Linked DNA regions of Homo sapiens: all the other regions are linked to region 3. The links come from fine-mapping of genetic effects on gene expression. A gene starts in region 3. Each other region holds a variant in brackets. All regions are shown on one strand. Distances are from middle to middle.

Region 1 (10,536 bases), 49 kb before region 3:
CAAGATTAAGTCCAAGATGTTGAGCATCTTTTTGTATGTTAATTTGCCATCTGTTTATCTTCTTTGGGGAAGTGTTTGTTCAAATCTTTTGCTCATTTCTTATTGGGTTGTTTTTTTTTTTAATCATTGAGTTTTAAGACTCCTTTATAAATATTCTGGATACAAGTTCTTTATCAGATATATGATTTGCAAATGTTTTCTCCCAGTTTGTTGTTCGTCCCTTCATTCTCTCAGCAATTAAAAGAGCATACTTAAAAAAAATTTGATGGAGTCCAGTTGATCAATTTATTGCTTCATGAATCATGCTTTTATCATTTCGTTCTTTTATGGTGTTGTGGCTAAGAAATTTTTGCCTGACCCAAGGTTATGAAGGTTGTTCTCTTATATGTTTTATCCTAGAAGTTTTATCATTTTGGTTTTACCCTTTTATTTTTTACTTATATTTTTATGCCTGAGTTAGAGTTGGGTTTTTGGTATTGCAAAGAAGGGAGACCCTGCTAATATTGTAATCTATTTGAAAGGTGAAGCTTAAAGACCTTCAATGGCTCCTCATTGCTCTTGGGATAAAAGTCCTAAACTCCCTAGCATGGCTCAAAGGGCCTGCATGAACTTCCTGGCCTGATTCCCAACCCTTTTCCTTTCTGGCCCCTCATGGTGCCCTGTGCTCTGGATGTACACACTGAATGGCAATTCCTTGAGCTCAATGCCCAGGGCAATTCTTTCTTGGAGCTTTAGGGCAGGCTGGATCAGACAGCCAGGCTGAAGCAAGACTCCATTCCCCCTCTCCTCCAGATATGAAGTTGTTTTTTATGTGAGACTACACCCAGGACCCCACTTGAGCATCTTCCATTTATTTCTCTTTCCCCCATCAAAGCTGACCCATCCTGAGCCCTGTGCCCTTAGGTTCAGGGTCCCAGTGCACTTCCTCCCAGTCTTTATTTGGATGTTCTTTTCTGTTTTCCACAGCTGAGATTATATCCTGCATATAATTTGCACCCTGGCTTCTCAGTTGCTGCTCCACTTTTTATATTATAAGAATTTTCGAGCTTTTTGTAAAAATACAATTAGTGGATGAATAATTGTCCATTTGAGTGGATATAAAATGATTTGCTTAACATTTCCTCTATAGTTGGTTTTTTGGGTTGCTTCCATTTTTTATTAGAAACAAGGGCATACTACATCTCTTTGTACATAAATCTTTGTCGATTTGAGATTATTTCCTTCTGATGGAGCACCATAAGTGTAATTACTGGGTCAAAGGCTGTGGTAATTTACATTCCCATCAGCAGTATTGTCTGTTTCATCACACCCTAGCCAGCATGGGGTATTCTCATTAAAATTTTTTTCTTCACTCTGTGATGGGCAAAATGTGTTATCTCACTGTTGTTTTAATTTACTTTTTAAAAAATAATTAGATATTGGAAAATGGGTTCAACCTATGAGCCATAAAAAATTAATCTTCTGTTAATTGAGTGTTCATCCCTTCACACTTACCCAGCAGTGATTTGAATTTTTAAAACTCAATTTGTATGGATTCTTAAACACCAAGGATATTAACCCTCTGCGTGACATCCTCGGAAGTTGTTTTCAATTTCCACACAGTTAAATCTAAAATTTTTAATCTATTTTCTTCTTATTTTCTTTGTGATTGCTTCCCTTGCTTTTAAGCTTAGAAGGCTCACTGAGAGTTTGGGGTGAATATTCACTTCTACTTTATTCAAGTGTGATTTTTAATTTAAATCTTTAATCCATCTGAACTTGATGCTGATGTATGACATGAAGTGAAGAATGAGTGGATTTGCTTTTCCAAATAGCTTAGCGATCGTTCCAACACCATTTATTAACTAAGCCCTTCTTTCTTCACTGCTTCATGGTGTCCCTTCTTAGCTCTGTGGAGTATGGTAATATTTTTCTGTTATACTGTGTATGGGTTTAATATCCTCCACCCTCATTCTTCGCCCCACTGTCCAAGCTTCCTGGGTGCATGGTTTTTGGGGTGCTGACATTACATAGAGTCCCTGGCTTGGCCTTTGAGCTCCTCTGTGGGCTTTTGTGAATCTGTAGCACAAACCACAATTGTGTGGACTATTGTCCACAGGGGAGTCTACAGGAATGAAAGCCATAGCTTTTCAGGACAAGAGCTGGGACTTGAGAAAGGAAGCATTCTAGATTCTACAAAGCTTGGAGGATTTGGAGTTAAAGCTAAAGGAAGAGGCAAAGAGCTTATGCATAGACAATAGATGGAAAAGACAGTTCACGATGATGGTGGAGCCTGAGCCCCTTGAAGGGGGTAAGAGTTCAACCTGTGGGCAGAAGGAGAGAAATCCAAGGAAATTCAAGCAGAATATTAGTACTGGCTGGATCCCCCAGAAAAGGCTCATCTTCCAGTCCCTGAACTGAATCCCAAGGGGGAATATGATGGGGTCCCAGACAAGTCTGGGGGATTCCAGAGCAGAAGCCTTAAGTCTAACCTGGTGGTTACATCAAGGGGAGCAAAGGCAGCAGAATTCCCTGAGCAGCCTTGTGGAGCCGAGCTGGCACTGGAGGGTGTCTGGGCTTGGTTGGGGCCAAGAGTGAGCTTGCCGACCCAGGGAAGCTAGGGTTTGCCAAATTCGGGGAGACAGAGCCTGTGGTTACCAGGAAGTGAGGAGGGACCAGAAGAGGCAAGATCCTGCCAGGCAGAGCAGAGCAGTCTATGTGTCCTGTTGACACTGTGGCATTCACGCCCATCACACACAAGTCGCCTTTCCCTGAGTCCTGGAGCTTGGACCTGCACCCTGCCACTGTCATCTCATTGATGTAGTTTTGGGTTATATTTTGCTAGCTGGGAAGGCTGGTCAAACCTCCCACTCCAGACAGCCTTCTGGTGAATGCCTTCTCCTCATGACCTGCAAACTCCGCTTTCATCTTTCATAACTTTGACTTCTGATTGTGGACTAGATTCCCCCCGAAGTCAAGTTCTGGACATGAACCTAGTTGGAGCTCACTCTGGGATGTAGAGGGGCTGGGACGCTGGAGTCAGAGGCAAGAGGCACAGAGGTTGAGTCCGCTACCTGCCACTAGCGTGCCCTGAGGCCTTCCACAGCTAGTGCCCTGTGCAGAGTCTCATTTTCCTGCTTTGCTTCTCCGTGGAATCCCTGTCAGCCTCGTGGGGTTTGTGAGGATCATATAAAACTTAGCTCTGACTCAACTGTGTAAACTGTGAAGTCCTGTGCCCACGCTGGGGTGGGTGATCCTGGTTCTCCCTCCTGAGCAGACCTCCTGTCCCATACCCCATCATCCCTGCATGACAAGGATGCCAACCACACAACCTTCTCCTCCAACTCTCCTGGCCCCTCCTTCACTCTGCCGTGCAAAATTAAGCAAACACACGGAATTTGTTTGTTTCGATAATCACAAACTCTTTTTGGCTAAAAATTTTTGACCTCCCATTTCAGACATTTTATTTCAAATCAGAAAATATTTGTTCAACAGCCCCAGTTGGCTGCTCCAGACTGGGGAGGATTCCAAAACGAATGAGACAGGGTCCTGGCCATGGAGTGGGATGAAATTCCTGCCAAAGGGAGACACAGTTAAAACACAAAGGTCATATACAAGTTCCCAGACAGAAAGTGGGACGCAGATTACTCAGTAAAAGGCCAATCGAGCGCTGTCCCAGGAGGTTGGATGTGTGTTACCGCCAGGGTGGATCCCTCTCGTCCATGTGGCCTCATTTCCTTGGAGGCCTCATTTAGCTAATTGCCTCTGCTCCACAGTAACTCATATCCCACAGGTACCTTCCTTTGGGAAAATTAATATGCAAATGTTGCCCTTTTATTAAAACCAAAATGAAGCAAAAAATTCTGCCCCCCTTTGTTGACTCTCCTCTCTTGACAGATAGACCCTGTATCAACCTTGCTCCTGACCCACCCCTCCGCATCCCCGAAAAACTGACAAACGGCCCTGAAGGCCAAGTCCAGGGTCACCAATCAACTTTTACCTCCCCTGAGCTCCCTGCCACTGCCACTGTGTCCTTTTGGAAACTCTCTTCCATGGGCCCCAGGGAGTCCCCCCTGCTGCTTTCCTCTCTGGTCCTTCCTTCTTGGTGTCCTCTTCCCTTACCCAGCCACCTGAACCCGAGTGCTCGCCTGGGCTCAGCCTCTGTCATCTGCTCATTCCTCTGCACTCTGTTCCTTAATCTCACCCATCTCTGAGCTGCTTCAACACCGCCTCCACCCCGGCTTGGACCCAAAGCCTCTGCAATGTCCAATTCCAGCCCAAGTTCTCCTATGGACTCCAGAAGCCACAAGTCCCAAAGGCACCTCATGCTCAACTGACTCAACAGACAACTCTTCTCATCCAAATATGGTGCTTCACCAGAGTCCCACATCTCATGGAGAGATGCCACCAGCCAGTAGACCCAGGAGACGCCTGGCATCTTCCTCCACAGCTCACTGGCTCTCACCACCTACCTCCACAGTCCAGCCTCAAGCCTGGAGACTTCATCTCCCAGTGGCTCCTGGGCCCTTCCAGTTCTCTTCAGCTCCACCCCCTCCTGCACTCCTGCCATCGCTTCCTCGCTAGAAGCCAGAGTGATTCCTTCTTTCCTTCCTTCCCTCCTTCCTTCCTTCGTTCCTTCCTTCTTTCCTTCATTCCTTCCTTTCATTCTTTCGTTTTCCTTCCTTCCTTTCATTCTTTCATTTTCCTTCCTTCCTTCCTTCCTTCCTTCCTTCCTTCCTTCCTTCCTTCCTTCCTTCCTTCTTTCCTTCCTTCCTTCCTTCCTTCCTTCCCTCCCTCCCTCCCTCTTTCCTTCTTTCCTTCTTTCCTTCCTCTTTCTGACAGAGTCTCACTCTGTCATCCAGGCTGGAGAGCAATGGCATGGTCTCAGCTCACTGCGTTCTCCATCTCCCAGGTTCAAGTGATTCTCCTGCCTCAGCCTCCTGAGTAGCTGGGGTTAACAGGCATGTGCCACCACGCCCAGCTAATTTTTTTTTTTTTGGTATTTTTTTTAGTAGAGATGGGGTTTTGCCTTGTTGGCGAGGCTGGTCTCGAACTCCTGACCTCAGGTGATCCACCCACCTCAGTGTCCCAAAGTGCTGGGATTACAGGCATGAGCCACGGTGCCCAGCCCAGAGTGATACTTTCAACATGCAAATTGGAACAAGTCATTGCCATGCTTAAATGTCTCCAAAGACTCCCCAGCATTCTTGGAATAAAGCCCCAAACCTTTCCAGCTGGCTGGCTCTTCCATTCAGATTTTTTACCCTGCTTCCCCTCATCCACTGTGTTCCAGCCTTACTGGCTTTCTTCCCCTCCCAGAACACACTCTGCCCCTCCCACTGCTGGGCCTTTGTCTGGGCTGTTTCCTCTGCCTGGAATGCTCTTTCTGATTCCTCCTAGCCTGGTTGATACCCACTCATCTTTCAGATCCCTTCTGGGGGTCTCCTCACTGTTTTCAGCACCACACACTTGTCCTTCATGAGTATCAGTGTTGCTAATTATCCTTTTATTCATGTAATTAATTCACATCTGTTTCCCCTTTTAGGGGAAGCAACAGGAGCCCCTTTTAGACAATAAGCTCCACATGGGCAGGGATGTGTGTCTGTCTTTTTCACATGGTCTCATCAACAACTAGCCAGCACACAAGAGGTGCTCAAAAAATATGTGTGGAATTGAGTTGAAAACTTTCTCTTGACTCCACATCTCACTTTCGAGCTCCCAGACAATCTTTCTCTAAACTTTTCTAATTATCAAAACTTAATTATCTAAACTTCTGTAAAAGGGCTGTCTTCACTGACTATCTATCATCCTCAGGCACTGCAGTCGGGGTTCTGCTCCATCACACCCCTGAAACTGCTCTTGCTGAAGGCTCCGATAACCTCCTAATTACCAACTTGAGTGGGTGTTTTTCCAACCCTGTCTTATTGGAATTCTCTGCAGGGTTTGATATTGTTGATCACTCTCGCCTTCTCGAAATGCTGGGCTCTCTTGGTTTCCATGACAACACCCTCTCCTTGTTTTTAACCCATCTCTATGACGACTTTTCCTTCCCAGTCTCATTAATCAGAACCTCTGACTCAACCACCCTTAAAATGTTAGGGTCCTGAACATTTGATATTGTAAAGATGTCAATTCTCTCAAAATTAATTTAGAAATTCAATGTCTTCCCATCAAAATCCCACTAGGATGTTTTAATGGAACTTAATAAGCTGATTCTAAAAGTCATATGGTACAGGAGATGGGCAAGAATAGCCAAGATAATTTTGAGAAAGAAAAACAAGTGGTGGAACACAGTAGGGGAAAAAGGACTGGATTTGCCCTACTAGGTAGCATACGACAAAGCAACAAAAGGATTAAACAGTGTGGCAATGGCACAGGGATAGACACACTGACCTACAGAACTGAGGAGCTCAGGATTTGACCTGTGTCCAGAGGGAATTTGCCATATACTAGAAAGGGCATTTCAAATGATGGACATTGGTCACCAGGAGCCTGAAGCTCCCTCCCTGTTCTTTAGCTCTGAGGTTTTTTGAAGAAGGCCCACCCAGGCAGCCTCCTCATGCAGAACCATTTTCTTTCCTTTCCTGCCCAACCCCTCCAAGCCCTCACCCCTTCAAAAATTGCCTGA[T/C]GCAGGTACCGTTTCCTTAAGACCTAGCTCTTATTTTTTTCTTCTTTTTCTATTGTAAAAAGAAATACATGGATGGATGAGTATATTGTATTCATTATATTGGTTAGATGGTGAGTATATTGTATTCATTATGTTATTCTTGTTCTCTTCTGCACTTTTGAAATATATTATCATATTTCTCTAACAGTCTAAGCAAAATAAATAAGGGAAAAATGAAATATATTATCATAAAAACAGCGATATCCAAATATGGCAGAAAATTTGGAGAGAAGTAAGTCATGAAGAACTAAAACATCTTGACAAGAATCCCAACATCCATTGTCAAGTTCTGTAAAAATGCGCCGGAAAAGCACATCTCTTCTTAGCCTTTTTAATGCATTTATTTACAATAGATGCTTTCATTGTATGTAATTTTGCACCATCCTTTTCCATTGATTATATGCTAAACATCTCCCCATATTAGTCAACTTCCTTTGTAATTATTATGTTTAATGGCTGCCTAATAATCCAGTTAATGAATGGAACATAATTTGGTTAACTGTTCTCCTGGAGCTGAAGATTTTGATAACTTCCTTTTTTCTTTTTTGCTATGACACCTAAAGCCACAGTGCACATCTTTCTGCAGAAATCTTTGGGCATTGCTTTAGAGCACTTCTTGGGATGAGCTTCCTGCAAATGGAATTACTGAGTCAAACAGTACGAACCTTTTTGAGGCTCTTCACACATCTTAAACAAATTGCCTTGTAGAAAGATTTTGCCACTTCACAGTCCTGCCAGCTGTGCAAGAGAGGGCCCATGCCACCGGGGCTGAATGAGCTCTGTGAGCTCTTGCTTTGTAAAGTACTCATTCGATGGGCCAAAAGTGGTATCCCTGCATTCAAATTTACATTTATTTTATTATGAGTAAGTTCAACATTTTCAACTGAATTTGACTTTTGAACTTCATCTTTCATAAATGGGCTCTTACAGCCTTTTATCACCCCAATGTTTCATTATGAAAATTCTTACTGCCTCTGTGAATGTTTTATTTATGAGAATTTCCAACACACAGAAGCTTTACATTTCCTATAGTCAATTATATTTATATTTTCCAGCACAGTTCTCTGTATTGCTGTAAATGCTACAATGGCCTTCCTCGACCATAGTTTGGATAATGAATCATTTCCAGTTTTTTCTAGTTATTACTATGCTTTCTTTTTTTTTTTTTTTTTTTTGCATTTAAATCATCTGACATGGCCGGACATGGTGGCTCATGCCCATAATCCCAGCACTTTGGGAGGCTGAGGTAGGCGGATCACCTGAAGTCAGGAGTTCAAGACCAGCCGGGCCAACATGGCGAAACCCTGTCTCTACTAAAAATACAAAAAAATTAGCCGGGTATGGTGGCGGGTGCTTGTAATCCCAGCTACTTGGGAGGCTGAGGCAGGAGAACCACTTGAACCCAGGAGGCAGGGGTTACAGTGAGCCAAGATCATGCCATTGCACTCCAGCCTGGGCAACAAGAGTGAAGCTCTGTCTAAAAAAAAAAAAAAAAAAAAAATCACCTGACACTTACTGAAAAGATGACATCAATTAAAAAGTAAAGAAGACAAAAAAAAAATTGAAAAAAATTTAAATAAATCACAGGACATTGATGTTGGTGGTTGGTATAAAGAGAGATAAATAATTGCTTTTCGTTTCTGAAATAGATAAAATAATTTTCCAGCCTCACTAAGTGACAAATCACTTCATTCCCCCTGCCTGCCCCCATTCATTTGCAGTGCCTCTGCTCTCATAAGTCATAGAATTAGACATTCTAGGGATCTGCATCTGGGCTTTCTATTCTGTTTCATTGAGATGTCTTTCTTTCTGTTACAAAATAATGGTTATTTTGTTTTGTTTTATTCTGCAATGTCTGTTAGGGTTAGAACCCTTGAAATCTCTGTTTCATATCAGATCACTTCCCCAAGCATCTAACTCCCACACCCAATTTCCCTTTTGGTAATCTAACCTTGAATTTCCCATAGCATGACTTTTTTACACAATACATGTTTTTCTAGCTACCTCCTCTCCCTGGAGATCACATGGTATTGTTGTGCTCCATAGGGGCAGGCCAGTGGTGCACTCAATCCTGAAATCTTGGAGGCACGGTCAGGAGATATGGCTTTGAGCCACATCCCTGCCAGTCATGCACTGTGTTGGGCCCTCCCCACGCTACTTTGTCTTGGGACATCTCAGCTTCCTTTTCTGTGAAATGGGGTTGTCAAGACCACGTGAGATAGAGAATGTCAATACAGCCTTATTCTTCACTCAACAAATGTGTGCTAGGTGCCAGGGATAAAAGAGCAGCCAGGGTAGAAATTGTCTCTGAAGAAACAGCCTTCAAGGAGCTTACAGTCTATTAGGGGAGAGTCCTCTAAAACAGAGGAAAAGGCAGTTGCCAAAGAAGTGATTGCAAAGGCTGTGGAGGAAGCAAACAGAATGTGAGGGAGAGCATGGGGTAGGAGCCCCACTTTAGATGGGTGGTTGGGGAGGGTCTCTCTTGGGAAACATTTAAGCTGAGCCCAAAAGTCTGAGAAGAGGGTGGTGGGAAAGTGGTTTCCAGGTATGAGGAGCAATGGGAGCCAAAGCTCTAAGAGAGGAATGAGCTTGGTGCACTGGAGGACTAGAAGAATTTGCTTATGGGTCGGGTGCGGTGGCTCATGCCTGTAATCCCAGCACTTTGGGAGGCTGAGGCGGCCGGATCACCTGAGGTCAGGAGTTCGAGACCAGTCTGACCAACACGGTCAAACCCCATCTCTACTAAAAATACAAAAATTAGCTGGGTGTGGTGGCACACGCCCGTAATTCCAGCTACTCAGGAGGCTGAGGCAGGAGAATCGCTTGAACCTGGGAGGCAGAAGTTTCAGTGAGCCAAGATCGCAGTACTGCATGCCAGCCTGGGCGACAGAGCAAGACTCCGTCTCAAAAACAAAACAAAACAAAACAAAACAAAACAAAAAAAGGCTACTCTGGCTGCTCTGTGGGGGTTGGATTATTGGGAAGAAAGTTAGCAAGTACCTGCAGTGACCAAGCAAGAGATGACGGCTTGGACTGAGCCATTGGTCATGATGATGGAGTTGGTTAGGAGGTAAGATCAACTGACCTTTCCATGAGATGTTGCAAGAGAAGAAGGCAGAGATTCTAGGGGACCGCTAAGTGTCTCCCAAAATAGGAGACATCAGTCAAGAACAAATTTGCAGAAGAAAGATTAGGAATTTGAATTAAAGAGCATAATGAAGTGAAAAAATAACAAACCAAGAATTTCATTTGGGATATGTTGTTGATGTCTGAGATGGTTGGCCATCAGGTTCTGGAGCTCAGACGAGAGATCAGGGCTGGATCTGGAAGAAGATGTAGAGAGGAAGATGGGTGTGTTGGACTGGAGCTTAAAGGAGCCCAGTGTGGACTATCAGTTTTGGGAATCAGCCTCTAGGAGAGAGGCAAAGCTTCAAGGATGCATGAAGTTGAGGGAAAAGGTGCACAGTGAGAGGGAAGGCTGGAGTCTGAGCCCTGGGCAGCACCAGCATTGGACAGGGGGAGGGGAGCCTGAGAAAGAGGGGAAGACAGGGAAAGAGAGTCCCAGAAGCCCATGAAGGAACATTTCCAGAAAGAGAGTGGCCACTGGTGGGCCACATGCACAGAGGTCAGTGGAGGCTCAGGCATCTCCTAGACCTGGCCTTTGGGGACTTTTGTCACAGCAACTTTGGGGCAAGGGGCAGAAGCCCCTGTTGGTGTTGGGGGAATGAACTGGGTCTGGCTGAGAAAGGAGGGAGGAGGGTTGGAGCAGGCAGCAGGTCCAGGAAGGAGCTGATTCTTCCAGGAGACATGGGAGGGAGGAAGCAGTACAAGCCCAGTTGGAAGAGCAGGGCAGGGCAGTGAGAGGGGCCCTGGAGCTCTGGGATTAAGTG
Region 2 (10,536 bases), 36 kb before region 3:
TCATCTTCTTACTGTGATGGCCTCACAACTTTCTTTTCTTCCTCCTTGCCCATCCACTTACCACACCGAAGAGCAGACTTCTTAAGATGTAAATAGGATCATGTCATTTTCTTTCATATCACCAGCCTTCAGTGACCTTCCATGGGCCTTAGCACCAACTCTGGTCTCTTTCTCAAGGCCTGCAAGACTCACCTGCTCTGCCCTGTCTGTCTCTTCCATCCCCCTTGGGTGCTCCAACTCACTGTCCTCCAGCCATAAGCAAATTCTTTTTTTTTTTTTTTTTTTTTTTGAGACTGAGTTCACTCTGTCACCCAGGCTGGAGTGCAGTGGCGCGATCTTGGCTCACTGCAACCTCTGCCTCCCAGGTTCAAGCGATTCTCCTGCCTCAGCCTCCCAAGTAGCTGGGACTACAGGCGCCCACCACCACACCCGGCTAATTTTTTGTATTTTTAGTAAAGAGGGGGTTTCACCATGTTAGCCAGGGTGGTCTCGATCTCCTGACCTCATTATCTGCCCGTTTCTTTCATTTCTGATCATTGGCATGGTGGACACAATGCCTGGAGTGACTACTGCCATCCTGTGACTGTGGGGACAGGAGCCCATATGCTGAGCTTGGGAGAACTGAAGGATGGACAGAACATGGGTCCTTAATGACATTACATTTGTCTCCCTTGGGACTTCTCATTATATGTGACAATAAATGTCTCACTGTTTAAACATTTTTGAGTTAGGTTTTCTGCCACTTGTGTCAAAATCACCTTTGCTGATAAGTGCCTCAGCCCTAATGGCCTTCTGGCTCCTGGAACATGCCACCCTCCTTCCATGGAGCTTCACCCCTGCTGTTTCTTCATGTGTCCTTCTCATCCTCATTAACCTCCATGCCCCTGGTTGAATGTTAGTTCTCTGATATAGCAGGGTTCCTCCATGCCACCTATCACAGTTTACAATTATGGACTTCTTTACTTTTTTTTTTAATAATTTTTTTTGAGACAGAGTCTTGCTCTGTCACCTAGGCTAGAGTGCAGTAGCTCTCTACATCATAGCTACAATCATAGCTCACTACAGCCTCATCTCCCAGGCTCAAGTGATCCTCCCATCTCAGCCTCCCAAGTAGCTGGGACTACAGGTGCGTGCCACCACACTCGGCTAATTTTTTTGATTTTTAGTAGAGACGACATCTCACTATGCTGCCCAGACTGGTCTGGAACTCCTAGCCTCAAGTGATCCTTCCACTTCGGCCTCCCAAAGTGCTGGGATTACAGGCGTGAGCCATGGTGCCCGGTCTCTTTACTGGCTTGATTAACATCTGGCTCCCCCACTGGTGTGGCAGCTCTACACAGGCAAGGCCTAGGGCTGTTTTTGCTCACCATTGTGTACCCTCCCACTGTGAAGGCCAGAGAGCTTAGACAAGTTCACTTACTCAGCCGGGGACCTGGTAGGGGAGAGAGACAGTGCATTCCAAAGGATTAAAGTGAAGCTAATTTAATGAAAGGACCATTCACAGAGTGTAGCAGGCTCCAGGGTTGATCAAGCACCCAGGGATGAGCAACAGCTGGAAGCTATCACACTTCTAGGTTTGAAGAGATGAGAGAAGGATATGGGCTTTCGGAACCTGGAGAGAAAGCTGCTGCTTTCAGAAAGAGACCCCACCTGTGGCCATACGAAAAGGAATGCAGACACTGCCAACCCACAGCCAAAGGAAGGTGGCCAGAGAAGCTCACTCTCCTCCCTCTCTCCAGCGTCTCCTTGTTTCCTCCATTGGTCACACTCAACTACAGATGCTTCTTGACTTATGATGGGGCTACATCCAAATTAACCCACTGTAAGTCAAAAATATCATGTCATTAAATGCTTTTATTTTGTTTTATTTTGAGACAGAGTCTCACATTATCGCCCAGGCTGGAGTGCAATGGAGTGATCTTGGCTCAATGCAACCTCCATCTCCCGGGTTCAAGCGATTCTAGTGCCTCAATCTCCCAAGTAGCTGAGCCTACAGGCATGCGCCACCACACCCACCTAATTTTTGTATTTTCAGTAGAGATGGGGTTTCTCCGTGTTGGCCAGGCTGGTCTTGAATTTCTGGCCTCCAGTGATCCGCCTGCCTCGGCCTCCCAAAGTGCTGGGATTACTTACAGTCTTGAGCCACTGTGCCAGGCCCATTAAATGCTTTAATACCCCCAGTACACCCATTATAAAGTTGAAAACTTGTAAGTTGAACCATCATAAGTCAGGGACCCTCTATAGAAGCCAGAAGGCATGGAGTCTGGGTAGTATTAAGGTTGGCCTCCCAGGCACAGAACAGGATGGAGGATAGAGTATGGCTCTTGGAGGGGACAGCAAAGGCTATCCGGACCAGTCACCAAATGACCTCCTAGCTACTCATTTCAATGCACCCTTTTCCTTTCTTAACCACCCTACAGAATTTGATAATCAATTTTAACTTTTTCAGGATCAGAAAGTGCACCACAAAGGTCTTTTCCATGCTTTGCTCTCTTCCCTTGAGACATCTCCAATCAGACCCACTTGTTTCCTTTCAGCCGGGCTCAGAGGATAGATCCCAGCTCACTTACAAGTCTTTCTTCTTTTCATCCTCATCCTCTTTCAAGACCAGGAAATTCTAGGGTTTCTCCTGTTTTCAAAAACCCTCCCTTGATCGCTCACATTTTTCTTGCTACCATTCAACTCCTTCCCTAGTCATCCAACCTTCTCTAAGGAAGGTTCTGCCACTCCTCCACCTATTCAGTCCGTTGACCCTGGGGAAGCTAGCTTTTACCCCTTTGCCCCCAAAACAGTTCCTGCCAAGGTTCATAGGAGCCCCCGATTGCTGGATTCAAAGGACTTTCTGCTTCTTATTTTTCTGAGATTCGGGGCATCGAGCTGTGGTGATTACTTTCTCCCTGAAACTCTTCCCTATCTTGGTTGCTATGGCAACCTCCTCTCCTAGTTATTTGTCTCATTGCTCAGGTCCTTCCTTTTCCTCTCTCCTTTGTCACCCACCCACACCTCCGTCAGCCCCTCACATGTCTCCGGGACTCATGATGCTATGAGCTCTCTCCCATCTTCCCTCTACACTCTCCACCTCCCATCTTCCCTCTACACTCTCTGCCTGATGGTCTTGCTCATTCCTGGAGTCCCATTAACTTCTGTCCCCAGGTTGGTCCCTCCAGTCAGATTTCTTCCTGAGTCCCAGCTCTGGCATCCAGCTGTCTGCTAACCTCCTCCTGGCTGTACCCCCGGCCCCTCATCTCTACTTCTCTGAGACTGAGCCCATTCCCCCCACCCAAACTGGCTACCATGCTGTGTTCCCCATCTCAAGCACCTCCTCACCATCTGCCAAGGAACCCAAAGACACA[C/A]GAGAATCACCCTTGGTTCTACCCTCTCTCTCACCCCAACAGCCAACAATCCTTATGCATTTCTGACTTTATTTTCTAAATTGGTCTCCCTGCCTAGAGACTATCTTCTTCCAAATATAGTCTTCACACTGACCATCTCAGTGGTCTTCCCAAATAACAAATCTGAATGCATCACTCTAGTGTAAAAACTTTCAACAGTGCCCAGTGACTGCAGGACAGTGTCCAAACTCCTTGACATGGGGGCATCCAAGGCTCTGCAGGGTCTGGTCTCTGTCCACTTCATCTTGCTCTTCCCATCCCCTCCTTCTTTTGTCATAGTCCAGGAACACCAAATACCCTCCAGCTCACTCCTGCTGCTCCTCATTCCCAAGGCTATGCTTGTGCTGTTCCCTCTGTTTAAAAGGTCTTTCCAGTTCCTTCTAGCTTGCTCATTCCTGCTCATCTCTAAGGAGATAAGTCACCCTAAGACCAATGGTCACCTCTTCTGGAAAGTTCTGTGCATATTTATGTTTCGTTACTGCACTTACCATACTGTACTATGATGGTCCATTTAAATGCTGTGTAGTAGGATCATATTTTATATATTATTTGATGTGCTTCCCCACCCCCCACCACACTTCCTTGCCCATCACCATGTTGGTGCACAACAAACTACACCAAACATTAGTGGCTTACAAACACAATTTATTGGCCAGGTGCAGTGGCTCACACCTGTAATCCCAGCACTTCGGGAGGCCGAGGCAGGCAAATTACTTGAGCTCAGGAGTTTGAGACCAGGCTGGACAATATGGGGAAGCCCCATCTCTATCAAAAATACAAAAATTAGCCAAGTGTAGTGGTGCACGCCTATAGTTGCAGCCACTTGGGAGGCTGAAGTGGGAGGATTGCCTGAGCTTAGGAGGTCCGACGCTGCATTGAGCCATGATTGTGCCACTGTACTCCGGCTAGATGACACAGAAAGACCCTGTCTCAAAAACAACAACAACAAAAACAAAAACAGTTTATTATTCCTCATGGTTCCGGGGTTGATAGGGCTCAGCAAGGTGGTTCTTGCTTAAGTGTTTCATGCAGCTGCAGTCAGATGGCAGCTGGGGCTGGAGTCATCTGCAGGCTCATTCACATAGTTGACAGTCAGCTGGGGGCTTGCTGAGACCGTTGACTGGAGTGACCACATGTGGATTTACCACAGGACCTGCACTTCTCATAGCATGGCAGCTGGCTTGTAGGAGGGAGTGTTCCAAGGCCAAGCATTGCAAGAGGCCTGGCAGAGGCCATAAGGCTTCCTGCGACCTAGTCTTACAAATCCCAGAATGTGCCTTCTGCTATATTCTATTGGCCAAGAAAGTCACTAAGGCCAGCCTAGATTCATGGGGAGGGAATTACACTTCTCTTCCTGATACAAGGAGTATGATATATATCGCAGGAAGGCAAGTATTGGTGGTGGCCATCTTTGGAGACTAGCTACCAAGGTCACTTTTTCCTGATTCAGTCAGAGCTTTGCAGGATTTGGGTTGTTGCAGCATGAATGCAGTGAGAAAGATGGTCAGTAGTTTCAAAGAGTCTCTTGAAACTTACAGCAGACAGGATGCTTTGTTGCAGTAGCCGGGCTTTTGTAAAGAGGAAAGAGCTTGAGGGACTGAGCACTTGAAATTGATGCCAGAATGGTAAACAGGGAAGAATACAGAAGCTGTTTTTCTGCCTAAAAGGAAATAAAAGTTTGACCAGCTAGTGGGAATAAAGGAATCACAAAGAGATGTAGCTCATAGTAGATACTAGAGCTCCCAGAGTAAATTTGAGGTATCCCAGAGCAGAAGGGACTGTTGCCTGGCTCCTCAGGTGTTGCCTGAGAGAACACAAGCTCCTGGCATGGGCTGGAGAGAGGCTGAGGACCCCTGGTGGGAGAAGGTGGCTGGGAGGTGTCCTCCAGGGTCCTGTTTGTCTTTGTAACACGGTGGTGATGGTGAGGGTGTAGAGAAGAGGGTGAGTGTAGCCGGTGGACTTGGAGGTGCCTCATGGTCAGGACAAAGATTTAGTAGGGATTCTGTGGCTCAGTGGATGGCAGTGGATAGTTGCTGGCAGACCTGAATCACTTGTATGCCCCTGGTGCCAGGTCAGAATAGAAGCTCCCAGAACACTGACTACCCACAAGGAGAAGGAGCAGTGGGAAGCAGAGGAGCTGGAAGTGGACCAAGAATCTACTTAAGATAGTCTTTTGAAATGTCCAGATGTGGCTGGGTTTACCTTCAACTAAGTTTGTGCTACTGAGCAGAATGGAGTGGCAGTGGTGTTGGGAAGAGTTAACCTGAGTAATGAAGCAACATTTTGGAGAGGCTCTGTTTGTAGGTTTCTGGGCTAGCACCTGGGGCCACCTTCAACCTTTCATTCTGTCTCATCTCTCCCGTGCACTTGGCACCATGCCCCCTATTTCTACCTCCAAAACTTCTCTTGCCTCCGCCTTCTCTCCATCTGCACTGTTGCTTAGCTCAGACCTGCGTTATTTCTCACCTGGACAACTGTGGTGCCTCTTAGGTACTTCCCTACCTCCAGGCTGTTGGGGCCTGATCAAACCCTTTTCTGCTGGCAGCCAGAGGGATGACCTCTGTTCTTTTTCTAGAACTGCGCCAATCCTTCTTGGAAATCATTCTGCACCCCAACCTATTTGCTTTGAAATTCACCTTCTCATTTATTGCACAACCCACTTTAATGGCCATCATTGATTTGCCAGAGGTGAACCCCAACTCAACTGGGCCAATGGAAGCTTTTGTCTAGATTTCTGGACTTGGGAACAGAGAGAGCTCATAACATGTATGGAGCACTTAGTGTCCATCCCCGAGGTAAGTACTTGATGGACATCATCTCCTTTGACCCTCACAGCATTAAGCTGGTGCTGTTGTTATCCCCATTTCCTATGTGAGGACACTGAAGACAGAGAAATTAGACAAAACAATGAGTAAGCAAGTAGCCCTGATGCTTAACCAAGTTCCTGCGCTCCTACCTCGATCTCTTTGTGGTCATGAACCTGAGAGGTGTGAAACATTGGCAGTCACGAACGCCAGTGTGTGGAAGAGGCATCCCTGAGAGAGGGAGCTGGCAGGCAAAGAGACGTGGAGACATGGAGATGGGAGAGGGGCAGGCTGCCAGTTAAGTCCCTGGCCCCGGGGGACCGGAAGGTCAACTGAACCTAGCTTGGCCTGTGGTTTGCGTATAGAAGCCAATTAAGTTCCTTCTGTGCCTGAGCTGGTTTCAGTTGAGCTTCTTCCACTGGCAAAGAAACTTAACTAAATGAAAGTGATCACACCTGTCTCCCTGCTTAAGAACAGCCACGGCCAGGCATGGTGGCTCACGCCTGTGATCCCAGCACTTTGAGAGGCCAAGATGGGCAGATCACCTGAGGTCAGGGGTTCGAGACCATCCTGGCCAACATGGTGAAATCCTGTCTGTACTAAAAATATAAAAATTAACTGGGCGTGGTGGCACACGCCTGTAATCCCATCTACTCGGGAGGCTGAGGCAGGAGAATCGCTGACCTGGGAGGCAGACATTGCAGTGAGCCGAGATCATGCCACTGCACTCCAGCCTGGGCAACAGAGTGAGACTCCGTCCATTAAAAAGCAAAACAAAAGAAAAAACGGCCACTGGTTCCTCATTACCCTTGGATAGAAGCTCACTTCTTGTCATGACACAGCAGCACTGCAGGTGCAGCCAGCCTGATCTGTCACTGATCTCCCTCCTGCCACACCCATGCCCCCAACCCTGTGTGTCTCAAATCGGCTGGACTCCCTGCAGTTCCCTTAAGAACCCAGGAAGGTTGCTGGCCCTCCAGGATCAGGTGAGGTGAGATCCACCCACAGCTTGCTCCTCATCCCCAGCTCTAACGCCCCTTGAATCCATCTAGGATTTCACCTGGGCAGTCTCACCAGCTGTGGGCCTTTCCTTTTCTGGAGTCAAAACTTAGCTTCTCTTATGTGTCAGCTCCTAAGAACATTTGACAACATCTTAGAAAACTGCAAAGTATCCAAATGTACCCAGAGGCAACCACTGTTCACATCTTGACACACTTGTTATCAGAATTGTTTGTTTTTAGGGACAGTGCCTGGTTCTGCTGACCAGGCTGGAATGCAGTGGCTATTCACAGGCACAATCACAGCGCACTGCAGCCTTGAGCTCCTGGGCTCAAGTGATCCTCCTGCCTCAGCCTCCCAGGTAGGTGGGAATACAGGTGCATGATGTGCCTGGCTTATCAGAATTTTTTTTTTTAATCCAAGAGAATAGAAGGGCTTTTGATGAAGAGCAGCAAGTTCGGGATGGACCCTCTCCCAACCCCAAACTCTTACCCGAGAGTGTGTGATCTCTGCTCCTGGAGGTTGTCTCCTAGCTGTAAGCTCTCAGCTTGTATTAGGAAGAATGCTTTCACCAGAACGTAATATATCACCTAAAAGTGGCTAAGCAACAAGAACATTTATTTCAAGTAATGAAAAGTTCAAAAGTCAGTGGTTCCAGGTATCTGAGATCTGAGTGAACAGAGAACCATGAGTCTCCTGGCCTTCCCCTCCTGGTCACAAGATAGATAGCTGTCAGGGCTCCAAGCACTATGTTTTCACTCAACAGCACCTAGGCAGAAAGAAAGGGGGCAGCCAAGAAACTTCTCCAAGTGCATCCCTCTTTTTCTTTTCTTTTTTCGAGACACGGTCTCACTCTGCCACCCAGGCTGGAGTAGAATGGCATGGTAGTAGCTCACTGAAGCCTCAACCTCCCAAGCTAAAGCAATCTCCTCACCTCAGCCTCTTGAGCAGCTGGGACCACAGGTGCATGCCACCACGCCTGGTTAACTTTTGTATTTTTTGTAGAGATGGGGCTTCACAATGTTGCCCAGGCTAGTCTCGAACTCCTAGGCTCAAGCAGTCTGCCCGCCTCAACCTCCCAAAGTGCTGGGACTACAAGGCGACAGCCACTGTGCCTGGCCCCACATGCATCTCTTTAATTAGGGAGGAAAGTGTTTCCCTGAAACTGCCTGAAGATATCCCCTTACAAGTCCCAAGTCAAAACTGGGTCATGGGAGCCCTCTAGACAGCATCTGCTACACCCCATTTCTAGTTCATAAGATCCACTGATGTCCCAGTGGATTAGGCATTGGGTCACTTGGAAACTACTCCCCTCTATCCCTACCTCTCCTAACACAGTCTTTAAGTACCTCTGTTGGTTATCTTTTTAAGAAACCTACTTGCCCCTTCATTCCTTATTCTACCACATGTCCACAGAAGCTCTTGCCTCCCCACTATTGTCCCTGTCAACCTTCCTACCCTCTTCCCTTCACTGCTACCTCCCAACTTTTATATCTTTACTTTCACATTGTGACAGATGATAATGTTGACATTCTATTCTGCAACCATAATAAAATTCAGGTCAATACAAAAGTTGAATATTAATGAAAACTAGAAAGATAACATTTTCATTATTTAAGTATACCATATATTTCCTCTGGGTATCTATATATGTAAGTTTTTAGAAACGTCTAGAAAAGTCCACATTGAGCCCATTACTGTGGTTACCTCTGGAGAGGAGGAAGGGAATAGGGTGGCAGTGGGTGGCCAAAAGGGACTCCAGCTTCATCTGCAATGTTCTCTTTTTTAAAAAAGGGGAACGTATTCATGTTTTGCTTGTGTCATTCGACTTCAATTTTTTAAAAAATTACTATTTATTTTCAGCCAATAACGTGGGCTCCGTGTGTTTGGATGTGCTTGCATGTTTGTGCCCAGGGAGGAGGAATATTTACTTTGTGTGTGCCTGTGAATGAAGTAGAGTGATTAGTAAGCAGATGAAAAAGAAATGTAGCAAGCAAAAGCAAAACAAAAAAGGGGGCTGGAGAAAACTAATTCACAACAATAATAAAAAGTATAGGAATAAACCCATTAGGAAATGGGCAAGTTCTTTATGGGGAGAACAACAGTGCATGAGTGAAGGACATACAAGATAATAAGAATAAACGTAGAGCTCTACTGTATTCATGAATTCAAAGGCTCGGTATTGTATTGATGTCAATTTCTCCAACTTGACAAGCTGGCTTTACAATTCATGTGGAGGAGTTAGTGTGCGGTACTAGTTAGCTAAGAGAGCTGAGAAGGAAGCACAACGAAACATGGCATTTGACTTCACAGATACCAAAAGGTGGGACAGCAAAGAAAACAGTCTTGTACTGAAAGGAATAAATGGATTGTTGGGAAAAACAGGGGCTTCAGACACACCTGACTCAGAATATCAGGGAGTTTTACTTCAGGTCAGAGGGGAAAGGAAGAACTAGTCAACCCCTCATACTGCAATAATTGGCTGCCCGTTTGGAGAAAGGTTAGATCATATATCAATATGATAATCAAAATATATTCCAGATGCATAAAGAACCAAATAAAAACAAAATTATAAAATTATTAGAAAAGAAGAAATAATATATTTAAATCTTAGGAGTAGGGAAGGACTAAACATGGTATCTGTATAAAAAAGGATCAAAGGAAAAGATTGATAAATTGGATTATGTCAAAACTAATAACTTCTAACAAAAGATTCTACAAAGAGTTAAAGGCAATGACAAGCTGGAAGAAAATATTTGTCACATATCTACAAAAGATCAATATCCAGATTATATTACAAAACTCCACAAGCCAGTGGGATAAAGACAACCTAATGCTTAAAATGAGAAAAAATAACAGGCAATTCAGAAAAGAGAAAATACAAATGCTCAATATACATATGAAAATCTCACAAGCAAACAGGAAAATACAAATTTTAAAAAGGATTCAATTTTTCACCCATGAGATTGGCAAATATTTAAAACAACCGCCTATGGGTGTGGGGATTACAGCCCTCTCATACCCTCTGGCTGGAAGCTTAAATGGTACAGAAATCATGGAGGACAGTGGTAGTATCTGCTAAAACTAAAACTGTGGACATATTAAGACCCAACATTCCATTTCCCAATCACTCCCAGAGATATCCCACCACAAAGGAACATGCAATGTGGTTTCTGCAGCACTGCTCATGATGGAGGAAAGAAAAAGAAGCAATTAAATGTCCATGGAGCTTACAGAAGATAAAATGTGGTACATTCATGGGAATGAATACAACATAGCTATTAAAGGCAAAAGCAAGCTATGTGTAGCAATAGGAGTATATTGTAAAAATGTAACACTGA
Region 3 (10,536 bases):
GGTCCGTGGCCCTGGGCTCTCCCCTGCCATCACGTCAGGGTGGGCAGTGCTCGGCCTCGGACTTGTCTTCCTCTCCCACTCCCCAGTGAGTCAGGGCTCTTTCTACACGGGGTCAGCTGACTGTCTCACCAAATGGCCCTGCCGCCTGTTCAGCCTTGTCTCTGGCTTTATGTGTCCCTGTCACTACACACCTGTTGCTGGGTCAACACCAAGGGAGGGAGTTGGAGGGCCATAAATCTCTCTTCCTGCCACTTCTTCGAATCCCTTAGTCACAGCTGTCACAAATACTTCTGAAGCACAAAGTACCTTGCCCCCTTAAGCCTGATCATGTTTCCCTCCCCTAAGCAAGCCCTTAAGTTTCTTAGCCCAATCACCAGCACCTCTAAAGGCATCTAAAACTTCATTCGGTATCAGAGAATTATAGGGGTGGGGAGGTGCAGATCCCGGTTCTGGTCTTGACTTTGCCATCAATCAGCCTAGGGAACCTGGACATGTCACCTTGTACCCTTCATCTCCAGTTTCCCTCTCGAAGAGGGCCTTTGAGATGCCAGTGAACCCTAACACGCTAGAAACTGCCATAGCAGTGGCAATCAGGACTCATCAGGACTTGAAGAGGATGTGCAATCTGAGACTTCATCTTTCTTAGGCTGGGTGGCTATAGCTGCTACCATAGCCTGAAGGTGAGGCAGGTCTCCTCTCGCCCCAGTGTGACTCATCAGCAGGCAATGCCCACACCTCCTCCCTTCTGAACCCCATATCTTGGCAGGCCTCAAAACTGGGAGTTTCTGTGGTTTTCCACACTAAACCCACAGAATCATGAACATACCAACATGTGTTCTCCATGAAGGCTGACCCTCCCTTCGGAGCTTTTGAGGGGTATGCCCATAGCCCCACTGCCCTTCTTGATGCTCTAACCTCAGCCCAAGTGACAAGGTAGCAGATTTCAGGGAGGTAGGCCAAAGCAGCATGGTAAGAGCTGGCTGCTCTGGACACAGCACCTCTTGTGCCCCCACTTAGAGGACAAGAGGCTCCTGGTAGCCCCAGAGCTTTCCATATCATCTTGGCAAAGCCCTTTTCCTCCATCCGTCCATCAGCAGGGCTGTGAGTGTGGCAAGGTGAGATGACAGATTTCCAGGCAAGGGCTGCCCTGGTGGCCTGCACCTGCACGTGTGGGCTTCAATGTGCAATGTCCACTCCCCATTTGCATCCTCCACCCACAAAACTTCATGTTCTGGCAGCAAACTTAACCCACCAGAGAAGACAGTGCATTCACTTTCCATCCAGTGCAATGCCATGCAATGCCTAGATGGTCCAAACACACCTTGTTTATAAAATTTTTTCCACAAACTATACCATTAAACATTTTATTCTGATAGAGAGCAATGCGAAGAATTGAAAATGACTAGTGTTTTACTGCACAGCCCTTAGTCACAGTGCTGAACGTCCCCTTTGCCTAAACCATCATTGCTCCCAGAAGACTTTGCCCCCACAAGGCCAAGGACAGAGCAGATCGGTTGGGAAGGAATTGGGAATAGCTCTGTGGGACTCCAGCAACAGGTGAGAGACCCTTGAGACTAATACTCCAGGATGTTAGTTTCTTAGCCTAACGAACTGAAGTTAAGTCCAGAGGTGTTTAGGTACCATGACTTTTAGGGGTGCAGGGTGCTATGTGACACTGTTACCTTTATCTGTGGAATATTTGAATTGTCACTGAAGGAAGGGATGTCTGCTGTCAGGGAAGGGCAGGGGCAAGTTCCTTGAGCTTGGGCAACGGATTACTGTTGGATCGGGGAGCAGGTTTGCTGTGAGCCATTTACTAGATATCTATTTTGAAATGTGTATCTCCTCAGGAGCCAACACCCCAAAGGGAGATTCTGAATTTGCAGTTAACTTCCCCCCCCCACCGCCCCCACCCCCCCTCAGAGATTTAAACGTGTGCACTCATGCACATACACAAAACACTAGTCAAACAACAATCTCTTTTCCCCCCGGTAACCTCTGACTTCCTCTATATGCCCCAGAGACACGTTGTCACCATCTTCCCTGGGAGTGATCCTGTTTATCCTCCCCTCCCCGACTTGCCCTCCCACAGGGCCCATGCATGCCCCAGCAGGATCCAGATTCCTGAGCATTTCCAGAGCAGGAAGTCAGAGAGGCAGGCAACGCGTGGTTCTTGGTATATCGCACAGGGACAGGCTTGAAATGGAATGCATGTGTTTCAAAGATAGGAGAACAACAACAAAAAAAGACAGTCTAACCCAGATTCCTCTTTGAAACAACATATTACAGATTAAAGGTTAAACTGTTTTTGGCAGCAACTCTAACAAGACTAATTTCAGATATGGAATTGACCTGGTCACTGGAAACCGACCAGGCTTCCCGTGATCAAATCTTTTAACAGATTTGCTTGACATTAATTAGTCTCTGATTTAAAACAAACAAGCAAACAAGATCTAACACTTGGCATTAGCACTTAAGCTGGAACTTTTTTTTGGTCCCAGCTTTGGTGTTGCCGTCCAGAAGGCTGACGGGATGACTGGACCATGTCAGGCAGGGCAGAGAAGCCGTCCCCAACACACCAGTTCCCTGAAAGGGATAGACGATCCAAACCTATAAACAGAAAGGCTGTTTCTTTCCGAGGACAGACCCCAGTCTCCCAACATTCGGCGATGAAATGGGACACGGAGGCCTGGAAGGAAACTAAAGGAGATTTGGAAAGGGGAAGGAAAAAACAACTGTCCCCCATCCCCCATGCTTCCTTTCCAGGCCATTAGTGCGCCAGGCATTCCGTTCCTTCAGCTGCCCTTGAGGGCCACTCCCCACGTCTATAGAAGGAAAGGGAAGGGATGTCCACCCTTGATGTAAAGTTGGAGGGAGTAAGAAGCGCCCGCGACTCTTAGCAGAGCGTCAGCCTATCACCCCAGACACCGAAGCGGAGCCTCAGGAGACCCTCTCTCCCCTCACCCCCACGTCCCCCCACCTCCCCCCCAAAAAAGCAACTAAAGCAACGCAACTAAACTGATGGGGACAGAATGACAGGCCTCTCACAAGCTGGGCACCCTGCCGTGGAACCCGGGGCTGCAGAGATGGTGGTCGCGCTCCCAGCCCCGTGCCCCCGGCTCTGCCTGTCTCATCCTGCAAGGGCGCTGACCTTGGACAAGGCCAGAGCCAGCACCCAGGAGTACTATGACCCACCTCCGGGCTGGGAAGGGACCCCCCAAGGCCCAGGCTAGGTCCAATCACGGCAATCACCTGAAGCCGGACAGGGGCGCCCTGCCTTCCCGGGGTATGCGGAAGGAAAACCCCAGTGACGGGGACCCGGCGACGCCTAAGGTGACCCAGAAGGGACAATATGGCGGCGCGGCCGCATGGAGGGCCTCTCATCCCGCCCCAAGCAGGTTGACGCCACGGTACCTGCAAGCCCTGCCATGGCGCCGCCGCCACTGTCGCCGTCTGCCGCAGCCTGCCTCCACCTCAGCTCGCCACCGACGCCGCAGGAAGCCGGGGAGACGCCCCCTTAGTCTTCTAGTCGAGCCGGCCGAGGACCCATCCTGGGATCGGGCTGTCTACCGCAAACGCCTGATCACAAGGTCCGAAGTGGGGGCTCATCCTCGCCCCATTTCCCGTAAATATCAGCCACAGACCACCTTTGAGGACTTTGTATGCACTTTTACAAAACTCTGGGAGCCCCGAGATCTTCAAGCCCGAATAATTTTTATCAGGCGCAGTGTGGACAGCCCCGAAGCGCGGCCGGGTCCCCTCATGCATATGCAGCAGATTGTGATCCTTACTCCGTGAGCGCTGGGCGGGCCGGGTTGTGTTCATGTTGGTGAACCCGCTTCGTTCTTGCCCGCGTGGATGGTCCGTGGACTCCGGGAAAACCTTCTCGTGGCTCAAAGTCCACCCCCTCCCTAGCGTTTCATCATGCAGCCAAGGCTCAGGAGCTGAAAGGTCCGGGCTCAGAACTTGGGACTGCCTTGGGTCAGGCCTCGGCTCCCCCACTTGCCCCGTACCTTGGGCCAGCGAGCCCCTCGCCCACCCCGACCCGGCTTCTGTTGAAATGCCCACCTTAGGGCTTTTATGAGGCTTGAATGAGTCCGTGTAGTCATTTATTAGCTAATTAAGCATATTCCTTGGGCGCTTACTGTACCCAAGCGCAGTGCTAAGGGCAGGTAGAGTCGGTAACCTGGGTCTGTCCCTGACCTCAAGGCACTGCCAGTCTAATGGCGGGTAGGCGGGGAGACAGTCATATAATCACTGTATATTAGTGACTTTAATCAATACATAATTACACATCATGGGAAGTGCTGTGAGAAGAAGTAGAGAGTGTTAGGAGAAATTAATGGAGTACTAATGTAGGGAAAGGGTGGAACCTCCTTGGGAAGATGGCATTTAGGTTGAGAAACAAAGGACGATTAGGGTAAGAGTGAGAGGGGAAATGTTCTAGGCAGAAAGAACATTTGTCCCAGATCTGGAGCTGGGAAGCGGCAGAGTTGGGGTGAGGTGAGCACAGAAGAAAACAGGTCAGCTACATACTGAATTTGGCTTTTCTCTTGAGAGTCAGGGAAGCCATTTTCATCAGGAAGAGGATAGCAAATTAGGATTTCTGAAAGGCCACCCAGGCCGCATGGCTTGGAAAGCACTCAGGAGTGGGTGTAGGCAGACCAGTTAGGAGGTGGTTGCAGCTTTCCAGACAAAAGCCAATGCTGACTCAGACAGGGTGGTAGCTTGGGGAGGTGAAGGGAAGGGTGGAAGATTGGACTTGGGTGGATGTGGAGGCATTGGCAATAACTCCTCGCTAGGTTTTAGCCTTGAGTAAATGAAAGGGTAAAAGATTCCTTGACCAAGACAATAAAGCCTGAAAGAGGAACGGACTGAGGGGGAAGATCAAGTTCGGCTTTGAGAAGTTAAGTTTGAAATGTCGGGGCAACATGCAGGCAGAGAGGGTGAGTAGGCAGGTTTATGTGACACAGAAGCTGCGAACGGAGGCTGGGGCAGGAGATACATATTTGGGGGCCATCAATACAAAGGTCATGGTGCTGGGTGAGAACGCAAGTGAAAGAAGGTGGAGAGAAAAGAAGAGGAGGATCCGGGAAAGGAGACTAAGAAGCAGTGGCCAGTGGGGTAGAAAGAGGACCAAGTGAGTGTGGGTCCTAGAGAGGAGGTTTCAGGAAGGAGGGAGTGCTCAGTGGGGCTGATGCTGTTGAGAACAGAAATGGAGCCGTTGGGGTTTGGGAATAAAGAAGGTTGGTGGACTGTATCTTTTATGTTGCAAGTTAAACACACAACTACATCAAGTGGCTTAAAAAAATAAGTAGCCTGCCACTCAGTGGCTAGGCAGTGTCATCAAGGACTGAGGTTCATTTTATCTTCTGTCCTTGTGCTGGTTTATGCTCATGGCCACAAGATGGCTATCCAGTTCCTGAGGTCACATCCAAAGCAAGGAGATGTCCATTTCTCCTCCAGCTGAGACTCAAAACAGGCCTGAATGTGGCCTCCCACCATCCTGCTGCTTACAGGCTAAAGGATCAATGCATCCATGGCAGCCACACCCAGTATCCAACACTGAATGACAAGAGGAGTCTTGTAGTGGAAGCTCTTGTTTAGAAAAAGAGAGAGCTGGCTTTGCAGATGCCGCTGGGATCCCCATACTATCAGCCATGGTCAGCCCCACCTTGTTCTTTGACATCACTGTCGATGACGCGCCCTTAGGCCCCTACTCCTTCGAGCTGTTTGCAGACAAGATTCCAAAGACAGCAGAAAACTTTCGTGCTGTGAGCACTGGAGAGAAAGGATTTGGTTAAAAGGTTTCCTGCTTTCACAGAATTATTCCAGGATTTATATGTCAGGGTGGTGACTTCACATGCCATAATGGCACTGGTGGCAAGTCCATCTGTGGGGAGAAATCTGATGATGAGAACTTCATCCTAAAGCATACAGGTCCTGGCATCTTGTCCGTGGTAAATGCTGGACCCAACACAAACGGTTCCCAGTTTGTCATCTGCACTGCCAAGACTGAGTGGTTGGATGGCAAGCATGTAGTCTTTGGCAAGGTGAAAGAAGAAAGAAGGCATGAAGATCGTGGAGGCCATGGAGCGCTTTGGGTCCAGGAATGGCAAGACCAGCAAGAAGATCACCATTGCTGACTGTAGACAACTCCAATAAGTTTGACTTGTGTTTTATCTTCACCACCAGACCATTCCTTCTGTAGCTCAGGAGAGCACCCTTCCACCCCATTTGCTCCCAGTATCCTAGAATCTTTGTGCTCTCGCTGCAGTTCCCTTTGGGTTTCATGTTTTCCTTGTTCCCTTCCATGCCCAGGTGGATTGCAGAGTTTATGATTATGAAATAAAAACTAACAAAAAAAGAAAAAGAGAGCTGAATGTTGAGAGGCTGTGGAGCAACAAATTCTTGCAGTGCTGACGGCAGAGCAAATTGGTACAGCCACTTTGGAAAACCAGCATCTACAAAATCTAAACATACACCTATGCTGTGATCTAGAATTTCCACTCCTAGGTATGTACCCGAGAGAAATGAGTGCCTATGTTTACATGGAGACTTGTGCAAGAATGTTCATAGCAGACTTATTCATAGCTCAAATTGGAAATAGTTCAATGTCCATCACTGGAGAATGGATAAATTGTGGCATGTTCATGCAATGGAATACTGTGTTTTACATATAAAAGAACAAACTACTGTTACATGTAATAGCACCAGTTAATCTCACATATAGTATGTGGACTAAAAGAAGCCAGATACAAAACAGTACATACCATATGAATCCATTCATATAAAGCTCAACTAATCTATAGGGTTAGAAATCAAAATGGTAGTTACCTGGGTCAGGTCAGGAGTAGGGATGGGAAAGGAGCAAGAGGAGCTTTTCTGGGATGCTGGAAGGATTATATCTTCTTCTGGCTGGTGATTATGTAAGTGAAAATTCATCAAGTAAAAATTCACCATAAGACTAGGGGACTTCGGGAGGCAGAGGCTGCAGTGAGCCAAGATCGTGCCACTGCTCTCCAGTCTGGGCGACAGAATGAGACCCTGTTTCGGGGGAAAAAGAAAGAAAGAAAGAAAAAAGACTGGGGGCTTTATATACTTTACGTATGTTATACCTCAAGAAAAATAGAAGAAAGGGGCTGGGTGTGGTGGCTCACGCCTGTAATCCCAACACTTTGGGAGGCCAAGGCAGGTGGATCATGAGATCGGGAATTTGAGACCAGCCTGGCCAACATGGTGAAACCCTGTCTCTACTAAAAATATAAAAATTAGCTGGGTGTGGTGGCACGCGCCTGTAATCCCAGCTACCCGGGAGGCTGAGGCAGGAGAATCACTTGAACCTGGGAGGTGGAGGTTGCAGTGAGCCAAGATGGCACCACTGCACTCCAGCCTGGGCGACAGAGCGAGATTCCATCTCAAAAACAGAAACAAGAAAAATGGAAGAAAGGAAGGGGTCCTGCCATCCCATGGAATGTGACATGCTGCTAAACAAGGATCAGGTCTGTTTTGCGGGATACCACCTTCCAGTAACTTCAGGCTGAGTGTTAGCATGTACAAGGCCTCAGTGGCCAGCCCTTTCTCCCTGGGGCCCAGAAAACTGGGGAAGCTGAGGCAGGGCTTCTAATGCACATGGAACTCGCTCCTGCTCAGCTGGACCCTTTCCCCTCTGTCCTCAAGATTGCTCCACCTTCCCAGCTCAGTTCCAGGCTGTGGAAACACCATCAACACCGGCTTTGACTTGAGAGACCTGGAAGGTCATTCTGCCCTAAAATTTTGCTGAGCCAAACTCAACTTCCTACCAAGGCTTCCCCAACTTGCTCCCACCCACCAGACACCTGGAGTCACCCATGACTCCTGCTCCCTCTTGCTCCATACTCCTCAACTCTTGCCCATTGCTCCTGAATTTCCTTTAGGCCTTTTCTGTCCCCACTGCCAAAGTTTGGTCCAGGCCACCATCCCTTCTCCCCTGAACCCTGCAGCAACCTCCTCACTGGTCTCTCTGCTGCCTGTCTCACCCAGAACCTTCATCTTCCACCCAGGATGATTTTTTCTTTTTTTTTTTTGAGACGGAGTCTTACTTTGTAGCCCAGGCTGGAGTGCAGTGGTGCGATCTCAGCTCACTGTGACCTCTGCCTCCCAGGTTCAAACGATCCTCCCACCTCAGCTTCCCCAAGTAGCTGGGAGTTCAGGTGCACACCACCAAGCCCAGCTAATTTTTGTATTTTTAGTAGAGGTGGGTTTCACCATGTTGGACGGGCTGGTCTCAAACTCCTGACCTCAGGTGATCAGCCTGCCTGGCCTCCCAAAGTGCTGGGATTACAGGAATGAGCCACCATGCCTGGCCCAGGATGATCTTTGTAAAATGACCTTGTCACTCTTCTTGAGGTGGTGTCCCCTGTCCCCTGTCCTCATCTGTCAAGATCTTCCCCAGTCTTTAAAGGCCCAGATCAAATGCCACCTCCTCCATGAAGCCTTTGCATTCATTCATCAAATATTTTTTGGTTACCTAAAATGTGCCAGGCACTGTGCTAGGCATGGAAGATAGAAAAGAGAATAAGAGCTGGGCACAGTGGCTCGTGCTTGTAATCCCAACACTTTGGGAGGCCGAGGCAGGTGAATCACTTGAGCTCAGGAGTTTGAGACCAGCCTGGGTGACATGGTGAAACCTTGTCTCTACAAAAAATAAAAATAAAAAAATTAGCTGGGCGTGGTGGTGCGCATCTGTGGTCCTAGCTACTTGGGAGGCTGAAGTGGGAGGATTGCTTGAGTCCGGGAAGTTGAGGCTGCAAGTGAGTCATGATCATGGCACTGCACTCTGGGTGCAGTGCCTGGTGACAATGCCTGGGTGACAGAGGGAGACCCTATCTCAAAAAAAAAAAAAAGAATATATATATGTTTTCTAAAAAGACACTACAGACAGTCTGGAGAGATGGGCAATTATGCAATGCCAATGCATGTGCATTTTCTGTCTGTTAACCCCCATGAGACCGTGAGCTCTTGGAGGGCAGGGTTCATTTTGGGTCTGGTAGGAAGGAAGAGGCAGTAACTGTTGAATGAATAAGTGAATGATTGAAAGGCTAGACCGAGCTCCTCCCTTTGTCATGTATCCTCCAAGTCTCTGATTCAGCTGGTAACCAGGTCTATGGAATTCAGTTGGGACTGGATGGCAAATTTGGGGCTAAATGATAAAGAATCAGGAAATGGTTATGTTATGAATAGAACAATGTTTTGTGAAATCACAATACTTACTTTCCTATACATCAGTCTGCTTGACAATTACTTTAAAAAAAATCAACATTATCTCCTTACCAATACTTATATATTCAGGAAATTCTACCTGTAATGGAACAATAGTTAAATGTTAAAGCACTAAAGAAGCTATGTGATATCAAAAGATTTTAAAAGGGATAAAAAACATTATTACCAAGGTGACCAGAGAATGGAGTAAGCTCCAGGATGGCGCAGACTGCAGCCAGAATGCAAGGGTTCATTTCCATTCTACATTTACTGGCTGTATGTCATTGAGCAAGTTAATAAACCTCTCTGTCCCTCAGTTTCTCCATCTGTGAAATGGGGACACATTTGACTCTACCTCATGTGATCATTTGTGGGAATTCAATGAGTTTGTGTTATAAAATGCTTAGAATAACACTGGTTGGCCGGGTGCAGTGGCTCACACCTGTAATCCCAGCACTTTGGGAGGCCAGAGCAGGTGGATTACCTAAGGTCAGGAGTTCGAGACCAGCCTGGCCAATATGGTGAAACCCCGTCTCTACTAAAAATACAAAAATTAGCTGGGTGTGGTGATGCACGCCTGTAATCCCAGCTACTAGGGAGGCTGAGGCAGGAGAATCACTTGAATCCAGGAGGCAGAGGTTGCAGTGAGCAGAGATCACGCCATTGCATTCCAGCCTGGGCAACAAGAACAAAACTCCATCTCAAAAAATAAAAGACTAGCACGGGTTACATAGTTAGTACCCTTAATTACCTATTGTTACAAATATGTAAAATTATCCTGGGGACTGGAGGCACTGTGGGAGCCCTGGCAGGGAGGGCCTCTCCCCACCATGGCTTTTAAGGTGTCAGGACAACTGGGTTTAAATCCCTGACCTACTTTCCTGACCTTGGGAAATGTTCCCAACTCTAAGGCCCTTTTGTTCCACACTTCTCAGGGCTTTCTCAGATGGGAAGCAAGTATGCTATTTTAGCCAGGTCTGTGGTGACACCTAATGGTAAAATGGGGAACTGCCTGATCTTACTAAACTTCCATCAACCTATTAATAGTACAAGCAATAACTATATATCACGCTCTTACCATGTGCCAGAAACTGAAAGCTGTGTGAACTGTCTTAGTTCACAGCTTAGGCTGACTGATTTAACCAATCAGCAAGTCCTGACAGCCCTGCCTCCAAAATAAGTCACAACCTAGCCCATCTTCTTATATCACCACTGCCTCCATGCTTGACCAAGCCACCACCACCCAGACACCAGCCTCCACCTCCCCATCACCTCTTCCCACTTCTTCTCTTGCTC

Alleles and levels. Positions count from the first base shown, and alleles are read on the strand shown. Sizes are in standard deviations (SD) of each study's normalised expression. Not every link is listed here.
In carriers of allele C in region 2, the expression in esophagus mucosa of the gene that starts at base 3,498 in region 3 tends to be higher than with A alone (small effect, 0.32 SD a copy in GTEx).

Evidence for each region. PIP is the estimated chance that this variant, and not a neighbour inherited with it, causes the effect.
Region 1: its variant is the best candidate, but not a certain one, in a credible set for the expression of BLCAP in whole blood (TOPMed, PIP 0.83).
Region 2: its variant is the best candidate, but not a certain one, in a credible set for the expression of BLCAP in esophagus mucosa (GTEx, PIP 0.52).

The regions. Positions count from the first base shown.
Region 1 is chr20:37,475,864-37,486,399 of GRCh38, forward strand. No RefSeq gene overlaps it. Among named protein-coding and RNA genes, the nearest start is that of NNAT, 40 kb to the right of the region's middle. The variant T/C (reference allele first, on the strand shown) is at 6,608.
Region 2 is chr20:37,487,898-37,498,433 of GRCh38, forward strand. No RefSeq gene overlaps it. Among named protein-coding and RNA genes, the nearest start is that of NNAT, 28 kb to the right of the region's middle. The variant C/A (reference allele first, on the strand shown) is at 3,354.
Region 3 is chr20:37,524,379-37,534,914 of GRCh38, forward strand. It overlaps BLCAP (BLCAP apoptosis inducing factor), which reads right to left and starts at 3,498. Exons shown (of 2, transcript NM_006698.4): 1 at 3,415-3,498. It also overlaps the pseudogene PPIAP3. RefSeq lists enhancers at 1,866-2,584, 3,302-4,019, 3,341-3,390, 3,481-3,790.